5 linked regions of the Homo sapiens genome follow. The protein of the gene in region 1 interacts with the protein of each later gene in a biochemical or structural test. Each region holds a gene or a part of one and is shown in the gene's direction. Other genes may lie near its edges.

Region 1 (5,867 bases):
CACCCTTGGATGGTGATGGCCAGCCTGGAGGAGGTCTGCACTTGGAGGAGGTGATGGTTTGGAGGTCTTTTTTTCCCAATTGGATTTTCCACAGGAACAGCCTAAGATGGTTCTGTGTGAGGGAGGCTTGCTAGGGATTGGTTTTATTTGCTAAGTGAAAGTTGAGTTCTTGAAGAAAAGGCCATCTCCGGTCTACAGGGGAGTAGCTCTGGGGACATATGTTATGGGGAAACTTGTTTGTCAGAGAACTGTGAGGGGATGTCTAGACTGTAGTTGCACCTGTTAGACTTGGAGAGATGTGTGCAAGTTTCGTAGGAAAATGTTTTGTTGCTGTTACTATCTTCCCCCTCCCTCTGTCTGTCTCTCTATCCTGACACATCTGGTCCCAGGGGCTGGGAATTCATTGCACAGAGGTTAACTAACCTGTGTTGGACTGTGGATGGTATAGTAGGATGGATGATTCTGTATATTACTGTTAAGTGTTCTTGTCACAGTGATATTTAAGGGACTGCCATTGATTTTAGGGGTTTGGATTTTTTTGTTTGGGATCATCTGACAATTTGGAAAATATAATACCCAGTTTTTTGCTATGTGTTGATGTAATCACATGACATGGTGTGAGCTGGAAAAAGAACTATTTGGTTTGCATGTGGATTCCAATTTTGTAAGGATGGGCTTTGCTTGATCAGAGCCTCTTTGCAATTGAAATACATGTAATGAAAGTAGATGAAACGACAAGTCTCCACTGGAGGGAGAGCCTGTGGTGCACCAGAAAAGGAAGGATGCGAATGTGCTTCTCAGTACTCCTCATAATGGAGGCCTGTATTTTGCTGTGGCATATGCCAGATTTACTTGTTTTTAACGTGTGTGTAAACTTCGGTATGCTGTTAATTATTAGATGCTTGACTTTGAAGGTGTGAATTTGGGTTTCGATGGTGGTTTAGTTTTGATTTTATTTCTATAACATAGCAGATTTCATAGTACAGGAAAGGTTACAAGGACCACAGAGTTTATCTGGTTCTATTCTTTCAATTTATAGATGAGGAAACAGACTCAGACAAGGTAACTGGTTTCATCAAGATTCCCCAGCCAGTTCATATCAAGGCCAGAGTGAAAGCCTACATCCTCCTGCATCTAGTTTTAATATACTGATGGAGACTGCTAATTCTAGGAAATTGTACTAGCCTCATTATAAATGCAAGAACCTTTGTAGATCCATATTCCCATATGTCTGTCAGATTTTTATAAATTTTTAGTTATTATTTCCAGAGTAATTACACCTAGGAAGAACTTCTAGAATGAATGGGGGGCGGGAGGGCATTAAGGAGATAAAAATGATCTTGTCATAGGAGCTTGCCCACATTTTCTCTTACAGGTGATATAGTAGGCAGGTTAAATATATGATTATAAAGATTATAAACTTTGGAATTTATCTAGACCATTGCCCTTTTGTTTTATATCTCCATGTATAAGTTGTTTTACACTTTAGTTATTTCTGTTTGTGTGAGAGAGAGAAGTGTGCCCAATCACTGTCTTACTTCCTATTATTTTTCTATTAATGTTAATTGGTAGTTATTAATAGAAGTATTTTTAAATTCAAAAATATTAAAATATGTATAACTTTTGTAACTGTTTTACTATGTAAAACACTCCAGTTATCAGTTTTACCTTTATAAAATAATTCAAATTGAAATACACATTTTAAAAAATGGCAGTATTTTGAAGAAGAAAAAGTAGACATTTTTCTTTCTGACAGGGCCACACAGACTGTCAGAATGTTTGAGGAGGAGCTAAAATTCCAGTCTTTTTGGACTCAATTCTATTACCATAATACTATACAGCATTTCTAAGATGACTTCAGAAAAGTTTTTAAACGCCCAAGACTATTATCACAGTGGAATATCTGCTGTTTGCCATTTTCTTATTGGAAGAAATGAAAACTACCAAACTGGTTAGACTATTGTTTTTATATAATATTTAATACCAAAGTACTTGATGATCAAAGAAGCCTTTGCAGGTCTCTCAATTCGAACCCATAAATTGTAGCTATTTTAACAATTGTATTATGTTTTTATTTTTTGTTTTGTTTTGTTTTGTTTTTTTGAGACGGAGTCTCACTCTGTTGCCCAGGCTGGAGTGCAGTGGCTCCATCTCGGCTCACTGCAACCTCCGCCTCCGGGGTTCAAGCGATTCTCTTGCCTTAGCCACCCAAGTAGCTGGGATTACAGGCACCCGCCACCATGCCTGGCTAATTTTTGTATTTTTAGTAGAGATGGGGTTTCACCATGTTGGCCAGGTTGGTTATGAACTCCTGACCTCAAATGATCCACCTGCCTCAGCCTCCCAAAGTGCTGGGATTACAGGATTGAGCCCCTGTGCCCGGCCTCAGTATGTATTTTTAAATGTGACACACACTGTGCTATACATTGGCATATCGGAATAAGCCATGATCTCAGACTTCAAGAGGCTGAGCTGGAGGGAGAGGTTTTTAGTATCCTTAAGTTTATGATGTAGTCTTGACATACGTATTCTGGAAATGTTCTGGCATTTCTAGTCCCTCAGCACCCCCACCCTGCTCTCTGCCCCATTTTTTATAAGTCAGTTAATTGTGCTTTTGAGCTTGATTGTGATTTTAGAGTCCTGCAATGTTTGAGATTCAAAGTCTTCTTTTGCTAGAGCTTCTCAAATGAATCTCTAACATCTGGAAAGCTTTTAAGATTGCATGTGTTGCTTTTAGGTGTTTGGTTGATGTGTTTGTTGCAAGTGTTTTATACATGGTTTGATTGATGTGTCTGCTACAGGTACTTTATGCTTGGAGGTCCTTGGCCTCCAAGTCTGTGCGGATCCACTGCAAGCCTAACGTCTTGTGACTTAGGTCACCAGGGACGTTTCTTAATTCCCTGGGCCTTGACTTCATGTTTCCTTATGAAGGTACACAATGTAGTTCTCAGGAACAACTCCAAGAGAGGCAAGAGTTAACAAGGAGGATCTATTGGCATGTGTTCTTCCATCCCAAAGATATTTATTGAGGGCTTACTATATGCCTGGGTTTATGTTAATGAGGACTTGGAAACATAAGAGGGGACCCAGCCCTGGAATTGCTCACAGCCAGATGAGTACATCTGATGTTAAAACAATTGCAATAAAGAGAAATAAGTAAAAGGGTGAATCACCTAGGTATGAGAAAGGAGATTACAAGAAATATCTGGAAAGGACAATAATAATGCTCTCATTGACTGACTACTAAGCACTTTACACATATTACCTTATTTAATCCCCCTAAAAGCCCTAATGAGGTAACTTTGTTACCTTCTTTTTGCAGACAAGGGCACTGAGGTTAACAGAGATGAAATAAGTTGCCCTGGGTCACACATTTAGTAAATGGTGGAGCTGGATCATTTAATGTGTGTCTAACTGAAAATCTACCATTATGAAACCTGACCTCACTAAAAGCAGAGGAGTGTAAAAGTGTGTGGTGTTTTTTGGGTCCTGGGCTATCTAGCTTTGTTCTCTTGGAGAGAAGAGTGACAGTAGTTGATGAGAATGGAAGGACTCCGATCATTTAGCCTCTACATTTTAGAGCCTTGTGTTCTTACTGGTAAGTTCTTGCATTAGCTATGGAAATAGGTTACAGCCACAGGCCTTGGGCAAAAGCAAGAGTGGTCTCAGGTTGAGACTTTTAAATCAGACTCTAGAAGCACTATGGAGAAGAGATTTGAGGAATTCTAGACTTAGAAGCAAGGGGGCATGTTACGATGCTGCCTCAGTTGTCCCAGTGAAAGACATCAGGAGAGTGAGATGAGGCAGTGTTGATGGAAAGGGCCTGGGATAGTAATGATGCATCTTCTTGGTGACTTGGGAAGGTGAGGGAGGTGTTGAGATTTTCCAGGCACACAGTGCTGAGGATTCATTCGCAGGTGGATAGCCTGAGTGACACATGGAGGGGAAGCCTTCTTTTTATCAAAAATGGAGGATTATGGAAGTGGGAAACTGGTTTGTTAGAAAAATCATGAGTTAAGTTTGAGTTGCTTATGGGAGAGGGAGCTGATCGATAGTTGGATATGTGTGTCTTCCACTCAGGAGATAGCACCTTGGAAGGTCTGAGCTCAGGGAACAAATGCGCAAACATCAGGCCATGGGCAGTTGCTGAAGCCCTGGCTGTGTTCAGGATCAGTTGCAGGGGGTTATGGGAGTAAGAAGCCAAGAGAATCGAGATTTGAACCCTGGGGAACTCTTGAATCCACCTAAGGTTAGGTAGTAGTTGATGCTGCAAAGGAGACCAAGAGAAGGCAGTTGGAGATATAGAAGATGGTCGTTTCTTGTCAGTCTCGTTAGTTTTAGTTACTAAAACATTTGTGATCATGTATTAAATTATGCGAAACACAAAAATTGCTTGAAGTAAATTTCTGAGGCTTGGTTTTACTTTGCTGTGTTTTTAGAAATCTCTAAAGCCCCAAGGTTAATTTTGTCCTAATGAAGAGCTTTATGCTTTTTATAGCATGTATACAGGTAATGTGAATTTTTCTGCTGAAATATCACCACTCCACTCTAAAGAAAATGATTCTATAGGAGAGAGATATTTTGATTCAGGCCCCTTTATTGTCTGGTGTTTGAAAGACCACAGTGGACAGGAGAGGGTGCAGAGAGCGAGGCTGGGGAAGAGAAGCATTGGACAAGCCTGTACCTCTTTTATATATGCCCAAGACTTGCCTGATTCATTTTTATGGACTGCCCTGCTTTTGGCATAGAACAAGGGTAAAATAACCTTTCTAGCTACTCTTATTGAATATAAGGTCACCTAGCATGGAGTATCATCTATGAGTGTGATAAAAAAGCTCAGTTATAAGTCTAAGAAATGATATCCCTGAGCCTATGAAGTCACAGTCAGACAGGCCCCAAGTATTGTCTTCTGTTTTGTTTTAGTTAGAAGTGGGCAGAGAGGAAGCTCACACTCCACATAGTCATTGTGCATATTATGTATCCAATAAAGAAAATGTGAACGTCTTGGTCTGCTAGTAAGAAGGAGTTGGAATTTCATTTTGTAATCCAGGTGTTCCCAAATCATGTTTTGAATTACTGTGTTACATATACAGAGCCCTTCTGCTCTTTCAGTAGTATGTAAAGCCCCAAAGGTAGGATTTAAAAGGGGATAGTAGAAAAAATACTGATGGCAGTGGACTTCATCTAGTTAATTGTAAGTTCCTGGAGGGCAGGGACTCTGTCACTTTGGCAGCCAGCCTCCTGTTAATACCAGTTGACTGAATGAGGTGGATTGTGATGACAAGGTGGTGTAAGATTTCATACAGAAATCACCTGCCAGGCTGCTTTAAGACTAGGGGTTGTCCAAGGCAGGAATTCCTAACTGGGAGAGGATCCTGGCTGCCAGTCCTCTCCTACCCCTTACCTCTCAGCAGCCATAATGCTTAAAGGAAATCCCAAGAAGATTCTCAGTAGAGGGCTGGGGTCCCTTGGTTCACACCATTGATAGAATTTAGACAGGAATGTTCAGGGATGGCATGCATACCTGAAACAGAGGTTGCTTCTTTGGATTCCTATTTGGAAATCTGAGTATCCCAGCAGCTTGTAGAAATGGACATCTTCAGAGAGCTGAGCCACTGACCCCTCCGGAGGAAGGCCAAACAGTGTGGTCGTTGCTTGGTTTGTTGGGCTGAATGCCTTAAATGGTTATTACAGTTAGTAAAGCCTGGAAACTTTTAAAAATAGGTCAGGGGTCCATAAGATACTATGGTACACATCTACATGGGAATCTTTCAAGTCTAAAAACACAGGGTTTTTGTTTTTGTCACTGGATCATGTGTGCACTTAGGTTTCATCAGATTTTCAAGGAAAGGGGAAATACTGGTGAT
Region 2 (5,867 bases), on another chromosome or scaffold:
CTTCCTAACCCCCAGAATTCTCCTAACACAAAACTATTTACTTTGGAAGTTGTCCCTGAAGTCCTCACTACTGCCTGACATGGGCAAGGTTGGCCCATAAAAGCACAGAGTGAACTGGCAAGGACCAGAGTCCACATACATTAACTCCGGGGCTCAAGATTTTAAAGAACAAAATTGATAATACACCTTTCGTTGTAGTTTACTTTTTGTATAAAGCAGAAGCATTAGAATACTATATGGCAGTACTTAAGCTTAATGGTAATTCCACACATAACTGGCCAAAGATTTTTCACAGGTCACCATGACCTGGAACTAGAGTAAATAGTTATCAGTGAAAGTTGAGCCTTAGTATAACCAGAACAGAGGCTTACCAAAAGTTACAGCAGGTCTGGCCTATAAAATACCAGCCCAAGATTGGGATAGACTCTCCCGTTCTGTGGTAGAGCTGTTTTTTGAAGCCCCATTAAAAAGTACTGTATACATGAATATAGTGAGGCTTCACTGTAAAATGTCTTAAGCATCAGATTTTGCTTCTGACAAAATTTGTGAGACATGGCCGTTCTTATTCAAACCCATAAGGTCCTCACTCCTTGAAAGGGGCACGTAGCAGATACACATTTGCTAAACTGTGTACCAGTGCCAGCATTTGGAGCCACTGTGTATTGCTGGCGAGTTTTTCAGGACATGATCATACACAGGGTATTTGAATGTGGTTCCACGCTGGACATCCTGAAAAGGAAAATAAGAAAGTCTTCCTGATCAAATGTATCTTTATTTTAAGATTCGGGGTATCCTTTTAAGGCTGATGAAGGATACTGAAATGCTCTACAGAATTTCATCAGCTTTGCCCTAGATTGCAAAACTGTTGTTTTCCTCATTTCCAGTTTGGTAAAGATTTTATGTAATGATTTTTAGACTGTGTAGCATCTATGGAATAAAAGGGTTTTCCTGTTCTCAGTTTTTGCCCACAGGTGATATACAGATGGATGAAAAATATTCCTGGTCAGGTGTGGTGGCTCATGCCTGTAATCCCAGCATTTTGGGAGGCTGAGGAGGGCAGATCATGAGGTCAGGAGTTCAAGACCAGCCTGACCACCATGGTGAAACCCCGTCTCTACTAAAAATACAAAATTTGTGCCAGGCACAGTGGCTCACACCTGTAATCCCAACACTTGGGAGGCCGAGGCGGGCAGATCACCTGAGATTGGGAGTTCGAGACCAGCCTGACCAACATGGAGTAACCCTGTCTCTACTAAAAATAAAAAATTAGCCAGGCGTGGTGGCGCATGCCTGTAATCCCAGCTACTTGGGAGGCTGAGAGGCAGGAGAATCACTTGAACCCAGGAGGCGGAGGTTGTGGTGAGCTGAGATCGCACCATTGCACTCCAGCCTGGGCAACAAGAGTGAAACTCCGTCTCAAAAAATAAAAAAAATAAATAAATAAATACAAAAATTAGCTGGGCATGGTGGCTCGTGTCTATACTCCCAGCTACTCAGAGGGCTGAGGTGGGAGGATCGCTTGAGCCCAGGAGGTCCAGGCTGCAGTGAGCTGAGATCTTGCCAATACCCTCCAGCCTGGGTGACAGAGTGAGACCCTGTCTCAAAAAAAAAAAAAAAAAAAAAAAAAAGGGAAGAAAAGAAAAAGAAAAATATTCTTTTGCTAATGCGCCGGCCTATGCACTGCTTTAAAATTTTGAATCAGCAAAGATAGTATCTTTGGGTCCCTTTTACCCCCAGGATCCCTCTAACTCTGGCAGTTTTGAGGGCAGCCCCTCATCTGGCCTGGTCCAAATCCCAACTCCAGCCCCACTGTGACTGGCTGGTGACCTCTCCAAGCCTCAAGGTTGCCTTGAGGACCAAACACACTAATAATTCATGCAAAGTGCCTGACACAGCCCAGGCACTAAATAAATGTGCTCAGTTAGAAGCTAACAGAAACTAAATGGCCGATGTCTGAGGTCAGGTTCATGCATAAACTTGAAAAAAAGGAATCATTCCTATTTTTTCCCATAGATTTTCCCAATGAGCTTCCCTTCCCTACTCTTAATCATATAGCATTTTCATAGAGCTGTGTAAGTTGGCCCTTGTATTGGTTTTTCAGTGATGAGGATTTTTTTTCATTTCTTTAAATTTTTTGAGAGGGAAAACTGGTTAGATTAAGCAGCATTTTAAATTATATGTATTATATTTTGTGTATTTTTACATATTATGTTTTCTAAAGTTATGATTATTTTTAAATGTAGAACATATAGAAAATAGTATAAAATTAAAATCTCCTATAATCTCCCTCACCTAAAGATAACCACTATACCATTTTGCATACATCCTTGCAAACTTATTTCTACATCGGTGGAGTTTTTCTTTAAAAACAAAAACAAAAACAAAACAAGTGAGATGGTGATATGGTTTGGGTCTATGTCCCCATCAAGTCTCATGTTCAATTGTAATCCCCAATGTTGGAGGTGGGGCCTGGGGCAGGTGGTTGGATCTTGGGGGTGGATTTCTCATGAATGGCTTAGCACTATCCTCTTGGTGCTGTTCTCATGATAGTGAGTCTTATGAGATCTGGTTATTTAAGAAGTGTGAAGCACCTCTCCCACCCTTGCTCCTGCTCTTGCCATGTGAGATGCCTCACTCCCCCTTTGCCTTCCACCATGATTGGAAGCTTTCTGAGGCCTCCCTAGAAGCAGAAGCCACTATGCTTCCTGTACAGCTTGCAGAACCGTGAGCCAATTAAACCTCTTTTCTTTATAACTTACTCAGTCTCAAGTATTTCTTTGTAGCAATTTGAGAATAGAACAATACAGGTGAGGAATCCTATTGTCTACACTGTTTCATAATCTGCTTCTTTATCTAACACATTCTTTATCTAACACATCGTGACTGCTTTTCTACAGTGATAAATATTCTTTAGGATCATATTTAATGGCCACATATTGCAGTTCTATAACAGTACCAGAGTTATTTAATCAGGCTCCTATTTGTGGTCATTTAAATTCTCTTTTCTTACTGAGATTTTTTTTTTAAAGCACTGCTATAACCAAATCTTTGTACACAAAAATATAGTTATTTCCTAAAGTTAAATTCCTTGAAGTTGGATGGTAGAGCCCAAGGGTATATGCAGAAATCTCAGTGTTTTTTTTTTGTTTTTTGTTTCGAGACAGGGTCTAGTTCTGTCATCCAAGCTGGAGTGCAGTGGCATAATCACAGCTCACTGCAGCCTCAACCTCCTGGGCTCAGGGGATCCTCCCACCTTAGCCTCTTGAGTGGCTGGGATTACAGGCACACACCATCAGGCTTGGCTAATGTTTGTATTTTTTGTAGGAACAGGGTTTCACCATGTTGCCCAGGCTGGTCTTGAACACCTGAGCTCAAGTGATTCGGCTTCAGCTTCCTGAAGTGGCAGGATTACAGGCATGAGCCGCCACACCCGGCCTGAGAAATTGAAGCTTTTTGATAGTAGAACCAAATTGTTTTCTCCCTTAGAATGGTTTACAGTTGAATGTCCATTTCTTCCCAGCAGCACCGACATTGGGTGTTACCTTTTGGTTTTCTTAATGCCACAGCCTGCTTTTTCTCCCTGGTGCAGTGTCAGGCCAGAGTTGGCCGCTGCTGACCCCACCAACTTTACATCATACTCACTCTTGCCTTGGAATCTCCTGCAGTTCCAGGCCCTCTCCTTCCCACAACCCATCTGCCTAGCCAGTTCTTGCCTCTGCTCACCCCTCTCGTCTTTCTGAAACTCTCCTAAGTCTACTGGTGGAGACAGATGTGCCAATAGGGCAGAGCCCGTCTGAAGTACTAGGAGCCGAAAGGAGTCCGAAGACCTTGCTGCCATGGTGGCACCAGCTGCATGTTGAAGGTGCGCAGCGGTTTGCCTGTGAAGAAAGAAGGGATGGAAGCTCATAAGGAGGCTGTGTGGGAGGCCAGCAAAGTTGCTTGTGAAGGATGTTGCTTGCCTTGCTTATAGATGGCCCGAGCTAGGCACCCATGCTCGTGCAGTTTTTAAGTTTGGGGGCAGAAACTCCAGTCTGGACTAATTACATATACAGTGTCTTTTTCACTACAACCTCTTGCTTTTTCTGTGCCCACTCTACCCTTCTGAGGAACAGTGATCCCTCTTCCCATTCTAGACCCAAGGAGTGGCTTTTGCAGGGATGGCAGTGGTACCAGCAGGTCCTCTTATTAGGGTTGCCAGATAAATACAGAGTGCCCAGTTAAATTTGAATTTCAGATAAACAACAAATAACTTGCGGGGCCGGAGAAGAATAATAAGTATATTCCAAACATTGCCTGAGAGACATCTTGTATTTTTATTTGATAATTTTTTTTTTTTAATACTGAGATGGAGTCTCGCTCTGTCGCCCAGGCTGGAGTGCAGTGGTGCGATCTTGGCTCACTGCAACCTCTGCCGCCCGGGTTCAAGTGATTCTCATGCCTCAGCCTCCCGATTAGCTGGCATTTCAGGCTCATGCCATCACGCCCGGATAATTTTTGTATTTTCAGTAAAGACATGACTTCGCCATGTTGGCCAGACTGTTCTCGAACTCCTGACCTCAGGTGATCCGCCTGCCTCGGCCTCCCAAAATGCTGGGATTACAGGCGTGAGCCACTGCACCTGGCCTATTTAATAATTTTACAACCCTACCACTTAAGTCTTTTGGTGAATTCAGTTGCTTTCGTTGAGAAATAAAGACTGCTGAGGGGAATAGAGCTGTTTGAAGAACTGTCAGGGCAGTTATGTGGTTGTGCAGGTGGGAACCTGGCATGGAAGAGTGAGGGCATACTGAAAGGGTGGGTGTGGTACTGGTCACATGGCATAGAGCCTTTAACTCAGCTTTTAAGTGTTTTGTTTGCTTGAACATGCACTTTGAAAGGACCTCACAAAACTGGTTCTCCATGACAATGTGTGGTTACCTGCTAACTCTGGCTATGGACAGATGAGAAACATACATGGTCAAAAGTCAACCTTTGTTTAAAGTTTCTAAGATTAAAAATAAACCCCTGCCAGCCCTGGGAGTCTCTGTAAGGCTAAACACACCCTCCCTTGATAGCAGGGTGTTCTCAGATTTCTGCAGTAATAATTATGCCAGGCCAGTTGTGGTGGCTCATGCCTATAATCCCAACACTTCGAGAGGCTGACATGGGAGGATCACGTGAGGCTAGGAGTTTGAGATCAGCCTGGGCAACACAGCAGGACCCTGTCTCTTTTTAAAAAGAAAGAAAAGAAATTTATGCCAAAGTCTTCCCAAGACACCTCTTAGTAAGAAAGCTAAAAGGTGGTTTGTTGACTTTCTCTTAGGCAAAAAGGACAGATTTTTGGGCCCAAGATTTTAATTAGAATTGTCTTCCCCAGAAGAAATTTAGTAAAGTGAACAGTAAGTGTTTCCTTACTCTCACCACTGTTTGGTGACACTGTTTGACTTGACAGTTCTAGTGCTGAGTAATAGTGTCTTCTCCTATCACTGTCTGTAAAACTGTTACTGCACTATTGGTTGATGATATCTCTCTCTTTTTTTTTTCTTAAGAGACAGAGTCTCTCTCTGTCACCCAGGCTGGAGTTCAGTGGCGTAATCTCGGCTCACTGTAACCTCCACCTCCCGGGTTCAAGCAATTCTCCTGCCTCAGCCTCCTGACTACAGGCACATGCTGCCACGCCCGGCTAATTTCTTTTGTATTGTAGTAGAGATGGGGTTTCACCATGTTGCCCAGGCTGGTCTCGAACTCCTGAGCTCAGGGAATCCGCCTGCCTCAGCCTGCCAAAGTGCTAGGATTACAGGCATGAGCCACCGTGTCAGGCCTGATTATCTCTTCACACTGCCTCACAGCAGAGTTCAGGAATTTACCATTCAAGTTAAGGGAAAATA
Region 3 (5,867 bases), on another chromosome or scaffold:
GCGTGCAGACACCCGTCCCTGGCTGCTTCCTCTTGTGGAATGGGTTCAAAAGTAAGCAGTGTTGTTTACACTGACAAACTGAAAAAAAAAGAAAAAGAGATAACATTGGAGGCTTGGCACAGTGGCTCATGCCTGTAATCCCAGCACTTTGGGAGGCTAAGGTGGGAGGATGTCCCCAGCCCAAGAGTTCTAGACCAGCCTGGGCAACATAGCAAGACCCCATCTCAAAAAAAAAATTTAATTGGCCAGGCAGAGGTGGGAGGATCACTTGAACCCAAAGGGTGGAGGCTGCAGTGAGCCGTGATGGCACCACTGCACTCCAGCCAGGGCAACAGAGGGAGACCCTGTCTCTAAAACAAACAAACAAACAAACAAACAAAAGAGTTAACATTGGCCAGATTAGGATTCACCAGATAGTGTTAATATTAGTTTGATTTGAGACTTTAATCAGAAAGCACATGTGTGGTGGGGGTGGGTGTAACCTAAGTCAGGTAGAATCTTTCCAACTTGGGGGGGGCACACTCCTGATTGTAGCCATATGAGTCTGTCAGTGTGGTGGAAGAGGCCATGGGTTAATGGGCAGGTAAAAAAGCACCTTGCCTGGAATTGAGTAGAAAGTAAGGCCCTTCAGACCCCGTGACACACTTGGGGACATTTTCTTGAGTAACATCCTAAGATTCATGTACCTTGATGATCTCCATCAACTTACTCATGTGAAGCACCTTTAAACCAGTCGTCTCCAAATTCAGGGGCACAGTAACATCCAACAGGCTGGAGAAAGAACGTACTAGAACTTCCATTCCTTTTTCATGTCCTCTTCTAAAAGCTTTGTCAGGGCCAGGCGCGGTGGCTCACGCCTGTAATCCCAGCACTTTGGGAGGCCGAGACGGGTGGATCACGAGGTCAGGAGATCGAGACCATCCTGGCTAACACAGTGAAACCCCATCTCTACTAAAAATACAAAAAAACGAGCCGGGCGTGGTGGTGGGCGCCTGTAGTCCCAGCTACTCGGGAGGCTGAGGCAGGAGAATGGCGTGAACCCAGGAGGCAGAGCTTGCAGTGAGCCGAGATTGCACCACTGCAGTCCAGCCTGGGCGACAGAGCGAGACTCCGTCTCAAAAAAGAAAAAGAAAAAGAAAAAGAACTGTGATTGGGGAGGACGGTCACTTTCCTGTTCTTACTGATCAGAAGGGATATTAAGGGTACCTGATTCAAACAGCCTGGAGATCACTGCTTTCAACCATTACCTGCCTTATTTATTTTTAGTTACTGTCCTTTTTTCAGTTTGTTTCCCTCCTCCATGTGCTGACTTTTATTTTGATTTTATTTATGTTTATGTTTAAGACATCCACACGTTCCTCTGCTAAAACCTTGAAAAATAGGCCTTGCCTTAGCCCCAAACACCCCACTCCTGGTAGCTCAGACCCTCTGATCCAACCCTCCAGCCCTGCTGTGTGCCCAGAGCCACCTTCCTCTCCTAAATACGTCTCTTCTGTCACTTCCCGAACTGGCAGTTCTGGAGCAAAGGAGATGAAACTCAAGGTAAGGAAACCACCTTTGAAAAGAACCAGGCTGCTCTGCTGTGGTTTGCAAATGTGGGGTTTGTTTATTTGTTTTTTAGCCTCAAAGACCTTTCTTCAAATGAGTTCTGGCATAGAAGCACCGTGTAAAATAGTTAGAATTCTGGGCAAAGGGGAAAAGAGAGCTGGGGGCCATCCCTCTCAGCACCCCACAGGCTCTCATAGCAGCAGCTCCTAAGACACCTGGTGGGACCTTGGTTTCGAAATCGCTACTCTAAGGCTGGGCACGGTGGCTCACACCTGTAATCCCAGCTCTTTAGGAGGCCGAGGAGGGTGGATCACCTGAGATCAGGAGTTCGAGACCAGCCTGGCTAACATGGCAAAACCCTGTCTCTACTAAAAATACAAAAATTAGCCGGGCGTGGTGGTATGCGTGGTGGTAATCGCAGCTACTCGGGAGGCTGAGGCACAAGGATTGCTTGAACCCCAGAGGCAGAGGTTGTAGTTAGCTCCAGCTTGGGCGACAGAGCAAGACCCTGTCGCAAAAATTGTTTAAAAAACAAACCCAAAATTGCTACTCTCATTGGGTTCCTTTGCCCATTCCTGATTTTGGCAAGAGAAATGCTTCCAGATTGCCCTGATCTGGGTAGGACAGCATCACGCCATAGCAACACTGCCCCGTGAGCTCACTGCCCCCTCAACTAGCTTGTGGTCCTTGGTTAATGTCAGTTTCTTTTTTGAGTTTGTGTTATGTCTAAGGGTCATCTGCTGGGTAACGGAACCCAGGGACTGCCCTAGTCCCTAGACTGTGCCATGCCCGACTCTGCCAGCTTTGTCAGTGATGCTGGTGCTCGCCTCCTCGGGTGCTCGCCTGGTCTGAGCACACCCAAGGAGTTCTTGAGGCCTTAGGGTTGTTTGCGAGAGAATGAAAGAACACGACCTAGCTCTCTTTAGCATCCTTGGTCAGGTTCAACACTGCCCCCAGGGGCCTCTGGTGGAGCCAACCACCATCAGCCAAATAAATCCATAATTAGAGTCAGAAAATGGATGTCTGCATATGTGTAGTGCACTAATGTCCTGCCGATGATTGACATGGAGTGGAGAGTGACCTGATCATTGCTGTGAGCTCTGCTGGCCTTGGCACAACTCATGCTGATAACTAATGCACACAGTTCCTCTGGGAGGAAATGTCCTCAGGGAACTTGGAGTTTGGGTGGGGATGTGGGTTTGTGTGCCCAGCAAGCCCTTGTGGTTGTAGCAGACACTAGTGGCATCTAGGAGGCAAAGGGTCACCCCAGTCTTAGCCACGTTTTGAGTCAAGGTGGCGGAGTGGGGCTGGTGTTGACTCTTGGTGGCAGTAACTTTTCCCAATGGTGAAAAACCCCTCTATCATGTTTCATTTACAGGGGGCTGATGGTAAAACGAAGATCGCCACACCGCGGGGAGCAGCCCCTCCAGGCCAGAAGGGCCAGGCCAACGCCACCAGGATTCCAGCAAAAACCCCGCCCGCTCCAAAGACACCACCCAGCTCTGGTAAGAAGAACGTTCTCTTGAATCTTAGAGGAAGCTGAAGCTCTCAGAGGTACAGCCTTCATTTTAGGAGGCCTTAGGCCACTGAGAATGAATAACCCCTGGCAGCTGGTCAGCAGCTTGCAGTTTACTAAGCACTGGAGTCTTCATTGCCTTCTCAGTCCTTTTGATTTCTGAGGCAAATGTTGAATCCCTACCTTTTTTTTTTTTTTTCTTTTGAGACAGAGTTTCGCTTTTGTTATCCAGGCCGGAGTGCAGTGGTGTGATCTCAGCTCACTGCATCCTCCACCTCCCAGGTTCAAGCGATTCTCCTACCTCAGCCTCCCTAGTAGCTGGGATTACAGGCACCTGCCACTATGCCCGGCTAATTTTTTGTATTTTTAGTAGAGACAGGGTTTCACCATGTTGGCCAGGCTGGTCTCGAACGCCTGACCTCAGGTGATCCACCTGCCTCGGCCTCCCAAAGTGCTGGGATTACAGGCATGAGCCACCACTCCCAGCCTGAATCCTCACTTTTTATCAATGAAGAAATTGAGGCTGATTCTGCAGCATGATAAAAAAAAATACAGAAAAAGGAAAAAAAAGAAAGAAATCGAGCCTCTGAGAGTTTGCTTGACTGAGTCTAACCAGCTCATTTTAAACCCGAGGAAAATGCAGTCACATGACTACTAAGTGGCAGCTCTCGGAGCCTCTCTGGCCCCAAGTCCAGGGTTCCATAGAGGCAGCCCCAGCATGGCATGTTTTCAGTCCCCAAATGAGACTCTGGAGACAAATGTCTCTGGAGACAGAGCAGCAGCCTGGATAAGTCACAATGGGTGACGTCACTCAGGGCTCAACCCCTGGGCAGCTTAACTTGCTAGGGACGTTAGGAGTCTGCTGCAAAACCTGAGGGTCTTAGCTGAGCAGTCACAGGCTGGGCCCGTTGCCCTGGGCTCCTGTGAGTAAAACCCAGTCAATTTTGAGTACCCAGTAAGGCATCCATTGAGTTATTTTGCAGCCAGGAGTGCTATTAAGAACAGTCGCGGCTGGGCGTGGTGGCTCATGCCTGTAATCCCAGCACTTTGGGAGGCCAAGGTGGGCGGATCACCTGAGGTCAGGAGTTCGAGACCAGCTTGGCCAACATGGCAAAACCCCGTCTCTAATAAAAATACAAAATAATTAGCTGGGCGTGGTGGCGGGCGCCTGTAATCCCAGCTTCTCAGGAGGGTGAGGAAGGAGAATCACTTGAACCCAGGAGGCAGAGGTTGCAGTGAGCTGAGATCGCACCATTGCACTCCAGCCTGGATGACAAAAGTGAGATTCCTTCTCAAAAAAAAAAAAAAAAAAACAGTCGTCCTCTTTGGGGATTAGGGACAGCCTGCCTGCCTGCCCGAGCACTTCTCTCTTCCATTGCCCCAGTGAAGTATTCCAGGCCCCTGGGTTTAGACTCTGCACCATGTAGGGGTGTCTGACCTGCACTTGCTCCTTGGTGGCACGGGCAGCCTATGGCACTTGCTGCGGGCTGTGACCAAAGCCTGGCCTGGATCTTGGATCTTGGTGACTCTGCTTCTCCCTGGCCTGAGGGAGCTGCCCAGAGCCTGCCCACCACCTGCTGCGTGTCTTTGCGGTGGCATTTCTCGCACACATGCCGTGCAGTGGCACCCCCAAGGATGGCCATTCACTAAGGCCCATTGTTTTTGTCTTTTCGCTTCGTGTTTTCTGGCCTGGTGTTTTTCTCATATACATGTGATCCAGGGATAATTCCCAGAATTTTGACAGGATTTTAAGTAGCGTTTGGATCCTGCTGTTTTTTTTTCACTTAACATCGGGCCAGTTGACTCACACTCTGTTTTTTGTTGTTGTTTTTTTGAGACGGAGTCTCACTGTGTCACCCAGGCTGAAGTGCAGTGGCACAATCTTGGCATACTGCAACCTCTGCTTCCCAAATTCAAGCAGTTTTCCTGCCTCAGCCTCCTGAGTAGCTGGGACTACAGGCACAGGCCACCACGCCCTGCTAATTTTTGTATTTTTAGTAAAGACAGGGTTTCACCATTTTGGCCAGCCTAGTCTCGAACTCCTGACCTCAAGTGATCCGCCCACCTCGGCCTCCCAAAGTGCTGGGATTACAGGGGACTCACACTTTGTAACAACCTGAAACAACGTGATGCATTTCCCTTTGGGTCTTACCTGCTCTTCGGTGGCTGCCTGCAGGTGGAGAGACCCTCCCCCTTGGGCCCCTCGACCTTGTTTCAGAATGGGGCCCCTGCTGGGCCAGCTGTGGGTGCCTGCCACGTGAAGGACTCATTAAGGCCCTGTTTAAGCCTGATGATAATAAGGCTTTCGTGGATTTTTCTCTTTAAGCGACTAAGCAAGTCCAGAGAAGACCACCCCCTGCAGGGCCCAGATCTGAGAGAGGTACTCGGGAGCCTACTTCGCTGGGAGCAGCCTCCCTTTGCGTGTGTGGCCATTCACTGGCTTGTGTTTCTAGAGCCGGGAGGACCCTTTTCTGCAATGCAGGGTTCACACAGGGTTCGCAGCCTGAAGATGGAGCAGTCCGAATTCTCTTCCCTGTGCAGTTTGCGCAGCTGTGTTTGTCTGATGGGCTTTCTAATCCTGTGTGCTCTCCTTGACTTCAGGGACAATGGCATTACAGGCATGAGCCACCATGCCTGGCTGTCTCCCTATGTTTCAGATGAAGACATAGGCTTAAGGAGGTCAGGTGACTTGCCCACGACCACTCTGTAAATAAGAGGCATGAAAAGTATTTGGAGCCACCACCACCAAGCCCACTGGTCACCCTGGGTCTCTGAAGTCAGGGAGGCAGGAGGATGGGAGGTC
Region 4 (5,867 bases), on another chromosome or scaffold:
GGCCTAGAGGGAATCATGGTGAATGTTTAGACTGTGTCTTAAACTAAATGCAACAGTCTTTCATTCAGCAACAGTTACCACAGCTAGTTCTGTTGGTTTTCAGAGACCTGAGAAGCAATGAAATACCTAGCACTAACATCTGTGGTGTTTTAGGATTATGGATAGGGACTTCAGTATAAATGGCTACAAATGTTATAATAGAGAATTGGACTGTAAAAACCATCTACCGTACCATTAAGTAATTGTATAGGACAAATGAAAAATTTTAATAGATATTAAAAGAATTCTGGTTGGTATTTTTTGTTTTCCTTATTTTAAGTACCTAAAGGTGTGATAATCTGTTGTTATTGATTGTTTTCCAAGTGTACTAGATGCCAGGGTGGTGGTGAATAGTCCTGACAGTGTTCACATCCCTATCAGAAGCAAGAAATATCTGCCCATAGGGTTACAGGGTTCATTAGGTCATATAGGAGGACCACTTGAACAGGACTGGGAATTAGGGAAGAGATTCCAAAAGTGATTGTACCTTAGAGTACCTCTTCTCATAGGAATTCTGTGTTGCTTTATAGATGTCATTACTACCAAGTAATCCTTCTTGTTATATAAGCTTTGACAGTTATACTTTGCATTTAGAAATTAACAAGGGCTCTCTCTGGTTTCAGTGAGTTATACCTTCATAATGTCAACATAAACCTTTGTATGTTTAAAAAATTTCAGTTTTTGTACTTGTGTATAAATTCTCTATAGACTCAAACGGACATCACCAACAGCCTACTGTGATTGTTGGGAGAAATGTAAATGTAAAACTCTTATTGCTGGACAGAAATCTGCTCGTCTTGATCTACTTTATCGCCTGCTCACTGCTACTAATCTGGTTACTCTGCCAAACAGCAGGCAAGTGGGATTTTTAGAACATACAGTAAGTTAAATCAAAAGAGCGCAGCACAGCTGAGTAGCTTTTCAGCCTCCCTCCTCACGACAACATTCTGTTTTGCAGGGGAGAGCACCTCTTACTATTCTTAGTACAGACAGTCGCAAGGCAGACGGTGGAGCATTGTCAATACAGGCCACCTCGAATCAGGGAAGATCGTAACCGAAAAACAGCCAGTCCTGAAGGTGAGTTAATTAGACATTTATGACACTTGTGGGAAGCAATATGTTTTATTTTTGTTTTGGTCACTATTTCTTTTTCATTTTAGATTCAGATATGCCAGATCATGATTTAGAGCCTCCAAGATTTGCCCAGCTTGCATTGGAGCGTGTTCTACAGGACTGGAATGCCTTGAAATCTATGATTATGTTTGGGTCGCAGGAGAATAAAGACCCGTACGTATTCATTAAAACCTTTTTAGATTTATGTATTTCCTACGTTAGTGTAGACCTTTTACAGTTCATTCTGTCTTTCGTTTCTCCTCAAGTCTTAGTGCCAGCAGTAGAATAGGCCATCTTTTGCCAGAAGAGCAAGTATACCTCAATCAGCAAAGTGGCACAATTCGGCTGGACTGTTTCACTCATTGCCTTATAGTTAAGTGTACAGCAGATATTTTGGTAAGTTCTTTGAATGTGTATTACAAGTACATGAAAAGTATGTTTTTCAAGTACTCTTCTTTGCTGTGAAACTAGAAAAGAATTTAAACCTTAAGATCCAGTGCGAATGAGGTTATGGTAATAACACACTCAGATAGGGATGGGGTGGCATTGCATCGTTCCTTTCTCTGGAAAACATAAAACTATCAGTGCCCTCAGAACCTGTCATAAATAAATAATTTACGATGTGAGAAAAATAAAGGCATGTCACAGAATAATGTAAAATTTAAAAACAGAAAAATATCAGCCTAATACTAGTGTAATCTTGAATCAAATTATAGCCTGACCACTTACTGGAATATGATGCAGCAATTTAAAAATAAATCGTATTGTAAATAACGTAAAAAAAAAAACCAAACAACCAAACTGTGAAAATTGGGTGTTCTCTGTAGCTAACATTTATACAAGAAGCTGCACACAGAAAAGAGACTAGAAAGTAATAATGGTTCCATGAGGGAGATGGGATTATGAATTTATTCATATAAATATTTGAGTCTGCTTTGCTGTTTTGGAAAGTGCCCCAGACTGAGTTTATGTTTTCTTCTTCTGATTTCATATATTTGGTATTGTTCTTCTAAATATTAGTTGATATACCAAGGACTGTGGGACAAAAAATAAGAAATCGTACATTTAGGACTCACTGTATGTCAAGCACATTGGCAGGTATATTTCATAAACTGACCTTGTAAATGTTTTGGTTAAATTTGTTTTGAGATTTTATTATAAAATGTTAATACTTAAAAAATGTTAGAACTTATAACTTTATGAATGTCTAAACATCTTATGAAGTATCTTAACATTAATAGAGTGAATATAATTTTTTAAAGCTTTTAGATACTCTACTAGGTACACTAGTGAAAGAACTCCAAAACAAATATACACCTGGACGTAGAGAAGAAGCTATTGCTGTGACAATGAGGTTTCTACGTTCAGTGGCAAGAGTTTTTGTTATTCTGAGTGTGGAAATGGCTTCATCCAAAAAGAAAAAGTAAGGCATCCTTTTTGATTTTGGTTTAGATACCATTTTCACTCTGTTTTTGTGATAGTGATTTATGTATATGAAAAGATAGATTGCTGATATTTCTCTTTTTGTTCTAGCAACTTTATTCCACAGCCAATTGGAAAATGCAAGCGTGTATTCCAAGCATTGCTACCTTACGCTGTGGAAGAATTGTGCAACGTAGCAGAGTCACTGATTGTTCCTGTCAGAATGGGGATTGCTCGTCCAACTGCACCATTTACCCTGGCTAGTACTAGCATAGATGCCATGCAGGGCAGTGAAGAATTATTTTCAGTGGAACCACTACCACCACGACCATCATCTGATCAGTCTAGCAGGTAAATTGCTACCAGGTAACAGATTCTGATTAATCCTTCTCTGGAAATGTCGTGTTTGACTTCCTAAAACCTTTGCATAAGCACTCAGGTGGTGTACATGATCATTTGTGTAACATAAATAACAACCAGAAAGCCGGAATTTTAAATATTTTTCTACAACAACTGTATTATCAAGGACAGGGCTAAAATAACTCCATTATAAATGTTTCTAATTATAAGATTATTTGTTCTTAAGTTTCATTTATCTTTTCTATTTGTTTGATAGTTTCCCTAATTACACTGTAAGCTTGTTGAATCAGGATGTTGAGCAACTTAAAACTTTCCGATGTCCTTTAGCACACTGCTTCTCAAACTTTAATATGTATGAAAATGACTTGGGGCTCTTATTAAAATATAGATGCCCACTCTAGAGGTCTTGAGGTGGGGCCTCCAACTTCGTATGCCTTTCAAGTTCTCAGGTGATGCCAATTCTGCTGGTTTAGGGGTCAGACTTTTCAGTAATAATGCTGTAGATCTTTGGCAAATATTTAGTGTATTTTGTTTTTTCAAGTCTGATTTTATAACCATGTGCATGTGTGATGATGTTTTAATAAGGACCTTTAGGATCTAAAGACCCTTTTCCTCCTTTTCTGGAAAACATCTCTGTTAATAAGGATGGCCTGCTTTAGTGTTTGGGATAGTTCCCAAGTTGTTACGCTTGGATTTGATCTGGGTTGGTGTTGAGTATCTGCTCTCACTATTCTCCTATATGCCAGTATATGTGTCCCAATTTTTCCTTTAATGTCAGGTGTCCCTTTAATCTAAATCCAGTTTTGTCTGACAGAGCTCTCCCATAGTATCCTTGATACTGATATACATCCAGGACTTGTTGAAAACTGTTACAAATCAAGCTGTGTATCTTCAGACTTGTCAAATCTATCCCATGATTAAATAATTCTGCTTGTGAGATCTGCTTGGACTCTGTATGATTTTCCTGATCTTGATACCCTGTGAGGAACTCATTAGTTACTTAAGTGGTATTACTTTGTGAATTCTTAGTATACTTCCCTTGATCTTGTTCTGGAACATAAAAAATTGATGGCTGTTGAACAGATTTTGGGATCGTCTCATCTCTAAACACTGCCCTTGAAACTGTTCCTACTAAGTTTCAAGATTTTGTGTCATCTTGTTCTTAGTCTCATTATTAAAGTATTACATACTCTTAAACTCTCTTTATTCCATTCCCTTTGCTTGTTTCTTGAGACAACTTCCTAAATCTTCCCAGAAGGAGATCTCATGTGATAATCAAGAAATAGTGCTAATGTTTTCTTCAACTGTTAAAAGTTCTTTATTATAGTACAGTACATTCTTACCCATAAAGGGTGTATTTTGACTAGTGTTCCAAGGATGTCTTAAGTTGAAAAACACAGACCTTGACCATTCTCTGGGATTTCACTTGTCTTGGATTATAGAAGGTGTATATCACCCCATTGAGTGTGAAGTCTTAAGAGTAGCTTTTTCTGTTGCTTCTTTCCACCTCTTGAAAATGTTCTTGTTATGTTCTTAATAAATAATCTGTTTCTACTTTATTTCCATGTCTCTCATATAACAGTAACTAACAGTTACTGAAATTTTAGTATGTACTAGGAACTTTCCTAAGTATTGTAGACAGATTACCTGTTTTAATTTTCCCAATATGTCATAGATAACCACTATCATTCTAGTTTGTCAAATGGGGAAACTACGGCTCAGAAAAGTTAGGCAACTTCTCCAGTGTAACACAGCTAATTAAAGTTTAGACGCTGGACTTACCTTGACAGATACTTCCTTTTTTTTTTGTATTCTCCTGAATAGTAGATGGCAGAGTAGAGAGGAAGACTACTTGGTGCTTGCTCATAGTGTTGAGCCACCACACAGTTAACCAACACTGAACCAGGCTTTATAGTGTAGAGTGCAGTCCAAAACTCTCCAAAATGCAGACTTGTAGTTAGAAGTTCTCAAAAGAGACCTTTTTCCATTCTGCATCTATTCATGGCTGAGATAGGTAAATCTCTCGAGGTATGATTTTTCTGTTTCACTCCTTCATGGTGTTGCCCTTTTAAGATTTATGTTTAGCTTTATATATGTGAGGGGGACAGAAGAGGAGATTCCTGTGATGACTTTCTATTCTTTGCTTAGCCTCCAGACTCTCATGTGAAATCTGTGGTTCCTTGAAGCCCTTCTAGCCCAAGAGACATCAGTGGGTCCCTTTGGGATAAATGGTGGCACTTGTCTCTCCAAGCTTTATACAGTACAGTCGTTTCTCTTTATCACCTGCACAGCTGTCCTTTTTTTTTTTTTTTTTTTTAATATCTAGCATATATATGTGTTCCTTAACAAGAGTGGTTTCTCTGCACAGTCTGCCAAATTGCTGGAACTAGAAGTCCCCAAAACTTAGTAGTGTATTAACGGGGCTTTTTAGACTAGGCTTCAGGACTGTTGTGCTTCATTGTGCCAGCAAGTCTGTTGGGAAAAAAGTTGAAGTCACACTAACTGGGGAGTTACACAGGTTGAGTATTCCTAATCTGAAAATGAGAAATCTGAAATGCTGCAAAACCGGAAACTTTCTGAGCACCAACATGATGCTCAGAGGAAATGCTCATTGGAGCATTTTGGATTTTGGGATTGAGGATGCTCAACTGATAAATATATATAATGCAGATACTCCAAAATTTAAAAAAAAAAAAAAAAACCCAAGATCAAAACACTTCTGGTCCCAAGCATTTCAGGTAAGGGATGTTCAACTGTAATACGTTTTATGTATTGGTATTTTTAAATTACTCTTTTTAAATTTTTTGTAGCGTTTGGGTCTCGCTGTGTTGCCCAGGTCGGTCTTAAATTCCTGTCCTCAAGCAATCCTCCCACCTCAGCCTCCCAAAACATTGGGATTACAGGCATTAGCCACTATACCTAGTCTGTTTTGG
Region 5 (5,867 bases), on another chromosome or scaffold:
GGCAAGTGAGTCAGGTGGCCAGGTGCCATTGCCCTGCGGGTGGCTGGGCGGGCTGGCAGGGCTTCTGCTCACCTCTCTCCTGCCCCTTCCCCACTGCCCTTCTGCCCGGGGCCACCAGAGTCTCCTTTTCTGGCCCCCGCCCCCTCCGGCTCCTGGGCTGCAGGCTCCCGAGGCCCCGGAAACATGGCTCGGCTTGCGGCAGCCGGAGCGGAGCAGGTGCCACACGAGGCCTGGAAATGGCAAGCGGGGTGTGGAGTTGCTCCTGCGTGGAGGACGAGGGGCGGGGGGTGTGTCTGGGTCAGGTGTGCGCCGAGCGTTTGAGCCTGCAGCTTGTCAGCTCCAAGTTACTACTGACGCTGGACACCCGGCTCTCACACGCTTGTATCTCTCTCTCCCGATACAAAAGGATTTTATCCGATTCTCATTCCTGTCCCTGTCGTGTGACCCCCGCGAGGGCGCGGGCTCTTCTCTCTGTGACTAGATTTCCCATCTGGAAAGTGCGGGGTTGACCGTGTAGTTTGCTCCTCTCGGGGGGCCTGTGGTGGCCATGGGGCAGGCGGCCTGGGAGAGCTGCCGTCACACAGCCACTGGGTGAGCCACACTCACGGTGGTAGAGCCACAGTGCCTGGTGCCACATCACGTCCTCTGGATTTTAAGTAAAACCACACACCTCCCGGCAGGCATCTGCCTGCGACCCTGTGTGTGCCTGGGGAGAGTGGTAGCACGGAGGAAATTCGTGCACACTCAAGGTCATCAGCAAGGTCATCCGCAGTCAGGTGGAACGTGGAGGCCTCTCTCTGGGATCGTCTCCAGCGGATAAAGGACTGTGCACAGCTTCGGAAGCTTTTATTTAAAAATATAACTATTAATTATTGCATTATAAGTAATCACTAATGGTATCAGCAATTATAATATTTATTAAAGTATAATTAGAAATATTAAGTAGTACACACGTTCTGGAAAAACACAAATTGCACATGGCAGCAGAGTGAATTTTGGCCGAGGGACACGTGTGCACATGTGTGTAAGCGGCCCCCAGGCCCACAGAATTCGCTGACAAAGTCACCTCCCCAGAGAAGCCACCACGGGCCTCCTTCGTGGTCGTGAATTTTATTAAGATGGATCAAGTCACGTACCGTCCACGTGTGGCAGGGCTTTGGGGAATGTGAGGTGATGACTGCGTCCTCATGCCCTGACAGACAGGAGGTGACTGTGTCTGTCCTGTCCCTAGGACACGGACAGGCCCGAAGCTCTAGTCCCCATCGTGGTCCAGTTTGGCCTCTGAATAAAAACGTCTTCAAAACCTGTTGCCCCAAAAACTAAGAACAGAGAGAGTTTCCCATCCCATGTGCTCACAGGGGCGTATCTGCTTGCGTTGACTCGCTGGGCTGGCCGGACTCCTAGAGTTGGTGCGTGTGCTTCTGTGCAAAAAGTGCAGTCCTCTTGCCCATCACTGTGATATCTGCACCAGCAAGGAAAGCCTCTTTTCTTTTCTTTCTTTTTTTTTTTTTGAGACGGAACGTCACTGTTGTCTGCCTGGGCTTGAGTGCAGTGGCGCGATCTCAACTCACTGCAACCTCCGCCTCCCGGGTTCCAGCATTTCTCCTGCCTCAGCCTCCCGAGCAGCTGAGATTACAGGCACCCACCCCCTGCGCCTGGCTAATTTTTGTATTTTTAGTAGAGAGGGGTTTTTGCCATGTTGGCCAGGCTGGTCTCGAACTCCTGACCTCAGGTGATCCACCCACCTCGGCCTCCCAAAGTGCTGGGATTACAGGTGTGAGCCATCACGCCCAGCCGGAAAGCCTCTTTTTAAGGTGACCACCTATAGCGCTTCCCGAAAATAACAGGTCTTGTTTTTGCAGTAGGCTGCAAGCGTCTCTTAGCAACAGGAGTGGCGTCCTGTGGGCTCTGGGGATGGCTGAGGGTCGCGTGGCAGCCATGCCTTCTGTGTGCACCTTTAGGTTCCACGGGGCTATTCTGCTCTCACTGTTTGTCTGAAAACGCACCCTTGGCATCCTTGTTTGGAGAGTTTCTGCTTCTCGTTGGTCATGCTGAAACTAGGGGCAAGGTTGTATCCGTTGGCGCGCAGCGGCTACATGTAGGGTCATGAGTCTTTCACCGTGGACAAATTCCTTGAAAAAAAAAAAAGGAGTCCGGTTAAGCATTCATTCCGGGTCAAGTGTCTGGTTCTGTGAATAAACTCTAAGATTTAAGAAACCTTAATGAAAGAAAACCTTGATGATTCAGAGCAAGGATGTGGTCACACCTGTGGCTGGATCTGTTTCAGCCGCCCCAGTGCATGGTGAGAGTGGGGAGCAGGGATTGTTTGTTCAGAGGTCTCATCTGGTATGTTTCTGAGGTGTTTGCCGGCTGAATGGTAGACGTGTCGTTTGTGTGTATGAGGTTCTGTGTCTGTGTGTGGCTCGGTTTGAGTGTACGCATGTCCAGCACATGCCCTGCCCGTCTCTCACCTGTGTCTTCCCGCCCCAGGTCCTACGTCCAGTGCCAGGGGATCCCGCAGGGCTCCATCCTCTCCACGCTGCTCTGCAGCCTGTGCTACGGCGACATGGAGAACAAGCTGTTTGCGGGGATTCGGCGGGACGGGTGAGGCCTCCTCTTCCCCAGGGGGGCTTGGGTGGGGGTTGATTTGCTTTTGATGCATTCAGTGTTAATATTCCTGGTGCTCTGGAGACCATGACTGCTCTGTCTTGAGGAACCAGACAAGGTTGCAGCCCCTTCTTGGTATGAAGCCGCACGGGAGGGGTTGCACAGCCTGAGGACTGCGGGCTCCACGCAGGCTCTGTCCAGCGGCCATGTCCAGAGGCCTCAGGGCTCAGCAGGCGGGAGGGCCGCTGCCCTGCATGATGAGCATGTGAATTCAACACCGAGGAAGCACACCAGCTTCTGTCACGTCACCCAGGTTCCGTTAGGGTCCTTGGGGAGATGGGGCTGGTGCAGCCTGAGGCCCCACATCTCCCAGCAGGCCCTCGACAGGTGGCCTGGACTGGGCGCCTCTTCAGCCCATTGCCCATCCCACTTGCATGGGGTCTACACCCAAGGACGCACACACCTAAATATCGTGCCAACCTAATGTGGTTCAACTCAGCTGGCTTTTATTGACAGCAGTTACTTTTTTTTTTTTAATACTTTAAGTTCTAGGGTACATGTGCACGACGTGCAGGTTAGTTACATATGTATACATGTGCCATGTTGGTGTGCTGCACCCATTAACTCATCATTTACATTAGGTATATCTCCTAATGCTATCCCTCCCCACTCCCCCCATCCCATGACAGGCCCTGGTGTGTGATGTTCCCCACCCTGTGTCCAAGTGTTCTCATTGTTCAGTTCCCACCTGTGAGTGAGAACATGTGGTGTTTGGTTTTCTTTCCTTGCAATAGTTTGCTCAGAGTGATGGTTTCCAGCTTCGTCCATGTCCCTACAAAGGACATGAACTCATCCTTTTTTATGACTGCATAGTATTCCGTGGTGTATATGTGCCACATTTTCTTAATCCAGTCTATCATCGATGGACATTTGGGTTGGTTGCAAGTCTTTGCTACTGTGAATAGTGCCGCAATAAACATACGTGTGCATGTGTCTTTATAGCAGCATGATTTATAATCCTTTGGGTATATACCCAGTAATGGGATGGCTGGGTCAAATGGTATTTCTAGTTCTAGATCCTTGAGGAATCACCACACTGTCTTCCACAATGGTTGAACTAGTTTACACTCCCACCAACAGTGTAAAAGTGTTCTGGTGCTGGAGAGGATGTGGACAGCAGTTATTTTTTTATGAAAATAGTATCACTGAACAAGCAGACAGTTAGTGAAGGATGCGTCAGGAAGCCTGCAGGCCACACAGCCATTTCTCTCGAAGACTCCGGGTTTTTCCTGTGCATCTTTTGAAACTCTAGCTCCAATTATAGCATGTACAGTGGATCAAGGTTCTTCTTCATTAAGGTTCAAGTTCTAGATTGAAATAAGTTTATGTAACAGAAACAAAAATTTCTTGTACACACAACTTGCTCTGGGATTTGGAGGAAAGTGTCCTCGAGCTGGCGGCACACTGGTCAGCCCTCTGGGACAGGATACCTCTGGCCCATGGTCATGGGGCGCTGGGCTTGGGCCTGAGGGTCACACAGTGCACCATGCCCAGCTTCCTGTGGATAGGATCTGGGTCTCGGATCATGCTGAGGACCACAGCTGCCATGCTGGTAAAGGGCACCACGTGGCTCAGAGGGGGCGAGGTTCCCAGCCCCAGCTTTCTTACCGTCTTCAGTTATTTTTCCCTAAGAGTCTGAGAAGTGGGGCCGCGCCTGATGGCCTTCGTTCGTCTTCAGCTGGCACAGAATTGCACAAGCTGATGGTAAACACTGAGTACTTATAATGAATGAGGAATTGCTGTAGCAGTTAACTGTAGAGAGCTCGTCTGTTGGAAAGAAATTTAAGTTTTTCATTTAACCGCTTTGGAGAATGTTACTTTATTTATGGCTGTGTAAATTGTTTGACATTCAGTCCCTCGTAGACAGATACTACGTAAAAAGTGTAAAGTTAACCTTGCTGTGTATTTTCCCTTATTTTAGGCTGCTCCTGCGTTTGGTGGATGATTTCTTGTTGGTGACACCTCACCTCACCCACGCGAAAACCTTCCTCAGGTGAGGCCCGTGCCGTGTGTCTGTGGGGACCTCCACAGCCTGTGGGCTTTGCAGTTGAGCCCCCCGTGTCCTGCCCCTGGCACCGCAGCGTTGTCTCTGCCAAGTCCTCTCTCTCTGCCGGTGCTGGATCCGCAAGAGCAGAGGCGCTTGGCCGTGCACCCAGGCCTGGGGGCGCAGGGGCACCTTCGGGAGGGAGTGGGTACCGTGCAGGCCCTGGTCCTGCAGAGACGCACCCAGGTTACACACGTGGTGAGTGCAGGCGGTGACCTGGCTCCTGCTGCTCTTTGGAAAGTCAAGAGTGGCGGCTCCTGGGGCCCCAGTGAGACCCCCAGGAGCTGTGCACAGGGCCTGCAGGGCCGAGGCGGCAGCCTCCTCCCCAGGGTGCACCTGAGCCTGCGGAGAGCAGGAGCTGCTGAGTGAGCTGGCCCACAGCGTTCGCTGCGGTCACGTTCCTGCGTGGGGTTGTTTGGGATCGGTGGGAGAATTTGGATTTGCTGAGTGCTGCTGTCTTGAACCACGGAGATGGCTAGGAGTGGGTTTCAGAGTTGATTTTTGTGAATCAAACTAAAATCAGGCACAGGGGACCTGGCCTCAGCACAGGGGATTGTCCAATGTGGTCCCCCTCAAGGGCGCCCCACAGAGCCGGTGGGCTTGTTTTAAAGTGCGATTTGACGAGGGACGAGAAACCTTGAAAGCTGTAAAGGGAACCCTCAGAAAATGTGGCCGCCAGGGGTGGTTTCAGGTGCTTTGCTGGGCTGTGTTTGTGAAAACCCATTTGGACCCGCCCTCCAAGTCCACCCTCCAGGTCCACCCTCCAGGGCCGCCCTGGGCTGGGGGTATGCCTGGCGTTCCTTGTGCCGCAGCCCGGAGCACAGCAGGCTGTGCACATTTAAATCCACTAAGATTCACTCGGGGGGAGCCCAGGTCCCAAGCAACTGAGGGCTCAGGAGTCCTGAGGCTGCTGAGGGGACAGAGCAGACGGGGAACGCTGCTTCTGTGTGGCAAGTTCCTGAGGGTGCTGGCCAGGGAGGTGGCTCAGAGTGTATGTTGGGGTCCCACCGGGGGCAGAACTCTGTCTCTGATGAGTCGGCAGCCATGTAACAGGAAGGGGTGGCCACAGGGAGCTGGGAATGCACCAGGGGAGCTGCGCAGCTGGCCGAGGTCCCAGGGCCAGGCCACAGGAAGGGCAGGGGGACGCCCGGGGCCA

Evidence for each region.
Region 2: the proteins of DYRK2 (region 1) and SIAH2 form a complex in vitro, tested with the Homo sapiens proteins (one study listed by BioGRID).
Region 3: of the proteins of DYRK2 (region 1) and MAPT, one has a biochemical effect on the other in vitro, tested with the Homo sapiens proteins (one study listed by BioGRID).
Region 4: the proteins of DYRK2 (region 1) and UBR5 form a complex in vitro, tested with the Homo sapiens proteins (one study listed by BioGRID).
Region 5: of the proteins of DYRK2 (region 1) and TERT, one has a biochemical effect on the other in vitro, tested with the Homo sapiens proteins (one study listed by BioGRID).

Annotation. Positions count from the first base shown.
Region 1 is NC_000012.12:67,650,745-67,656,611, forward strand, and holds part of DYRK2 (dual specificity tyrosine-phosphorylation-regulated kinase 2), read left to right. Parts: exon of another isoform or gene 1-50; intron 51-5,867. UniProt on the Homo sapiens protein: Serine/threonine-protein kinase involved in the regulation of the mitotic cell cycle, cell proliferation, apoptosis, organization of the cytoskeleton and neurite outgrowth. Functions in part via its role in ubiquitin-dependent proteasomal protein degradation.
Region 2 is NC_000003.12:150,751,084-150,756,950, reverse strand, and holds part of SIAH2 (E3 ubiquitin-protein ligase SIAH2), read left to right. Parts: intron 1-5,867. UniProt on the Homo sapiens protein: E3 ubiquitin-protein ligase that mediates ubiquitination and subsequent proteasomal degradation of target proteins.
Region 3 is NC_000017.11:45,988,534-45,994,400, forward strand, and holds part of MAPT (microtubule-associated protein tau), read left to right. Parts: intron 1-1,344; coding exon 1,345-1,542; intron 1,543-2,926; coding exon 2,927-3,053; intron 3,054-5,390; coding exon of another isoform or gene 5,391-5,444; intron 5,445-5,867. UniProt on the Homo sapiens protein: Promotes microtubule assembly and stability, and might be involved in the establishment and maintenance of neuronal polarity.
Region 4 is NC_000008.11:102,290,663-102,296,529, reverse strand, and holds part of UBR5 (E3 ubiquitin-protein ligase UBR5), read left to right. Parts: intron 1-747; coding exon 748-894; intron 895-997; coding exon 998-1,116; intron 1,117-1,199; coding exon 1,200-1,326; intron 1,327-1,418; coding exon 1,419-1,548; intron 1,549-2,414; coding exon 2,415-2,575; intron 2,576-2,685; coding exon 2,686-2,925; intron 2,926-5,867. UniProt on the Homo sapiens protein: E3 ubiquitin-protein ligase involved in different protein quality control pathways in the cytoplasm and nucleus. Mainly acts as a ubiquitin chain elongator that extends pre-ubiquitinated substrates.
Region 5 is NC_000005.10:1,265,257-1,271,123, reverse strand, and holds part of TERT (telomerase reverse transcriptase), read left to right. Parts: coding exon 1-5; intron 6-2,490; coding exon 2,491-2,604; intron 2,605-4,588; coding exon 4,589-4,660; intron 4,661-5,867. UniProt on the Homo sapiens protein: Telomerase is a ribonucleoprotein enzyme essential for the replication of chromosome termini in most eukaryotes. Active in progenitor and cancer cells. Inactive, or very low activity, in normal somatic cells.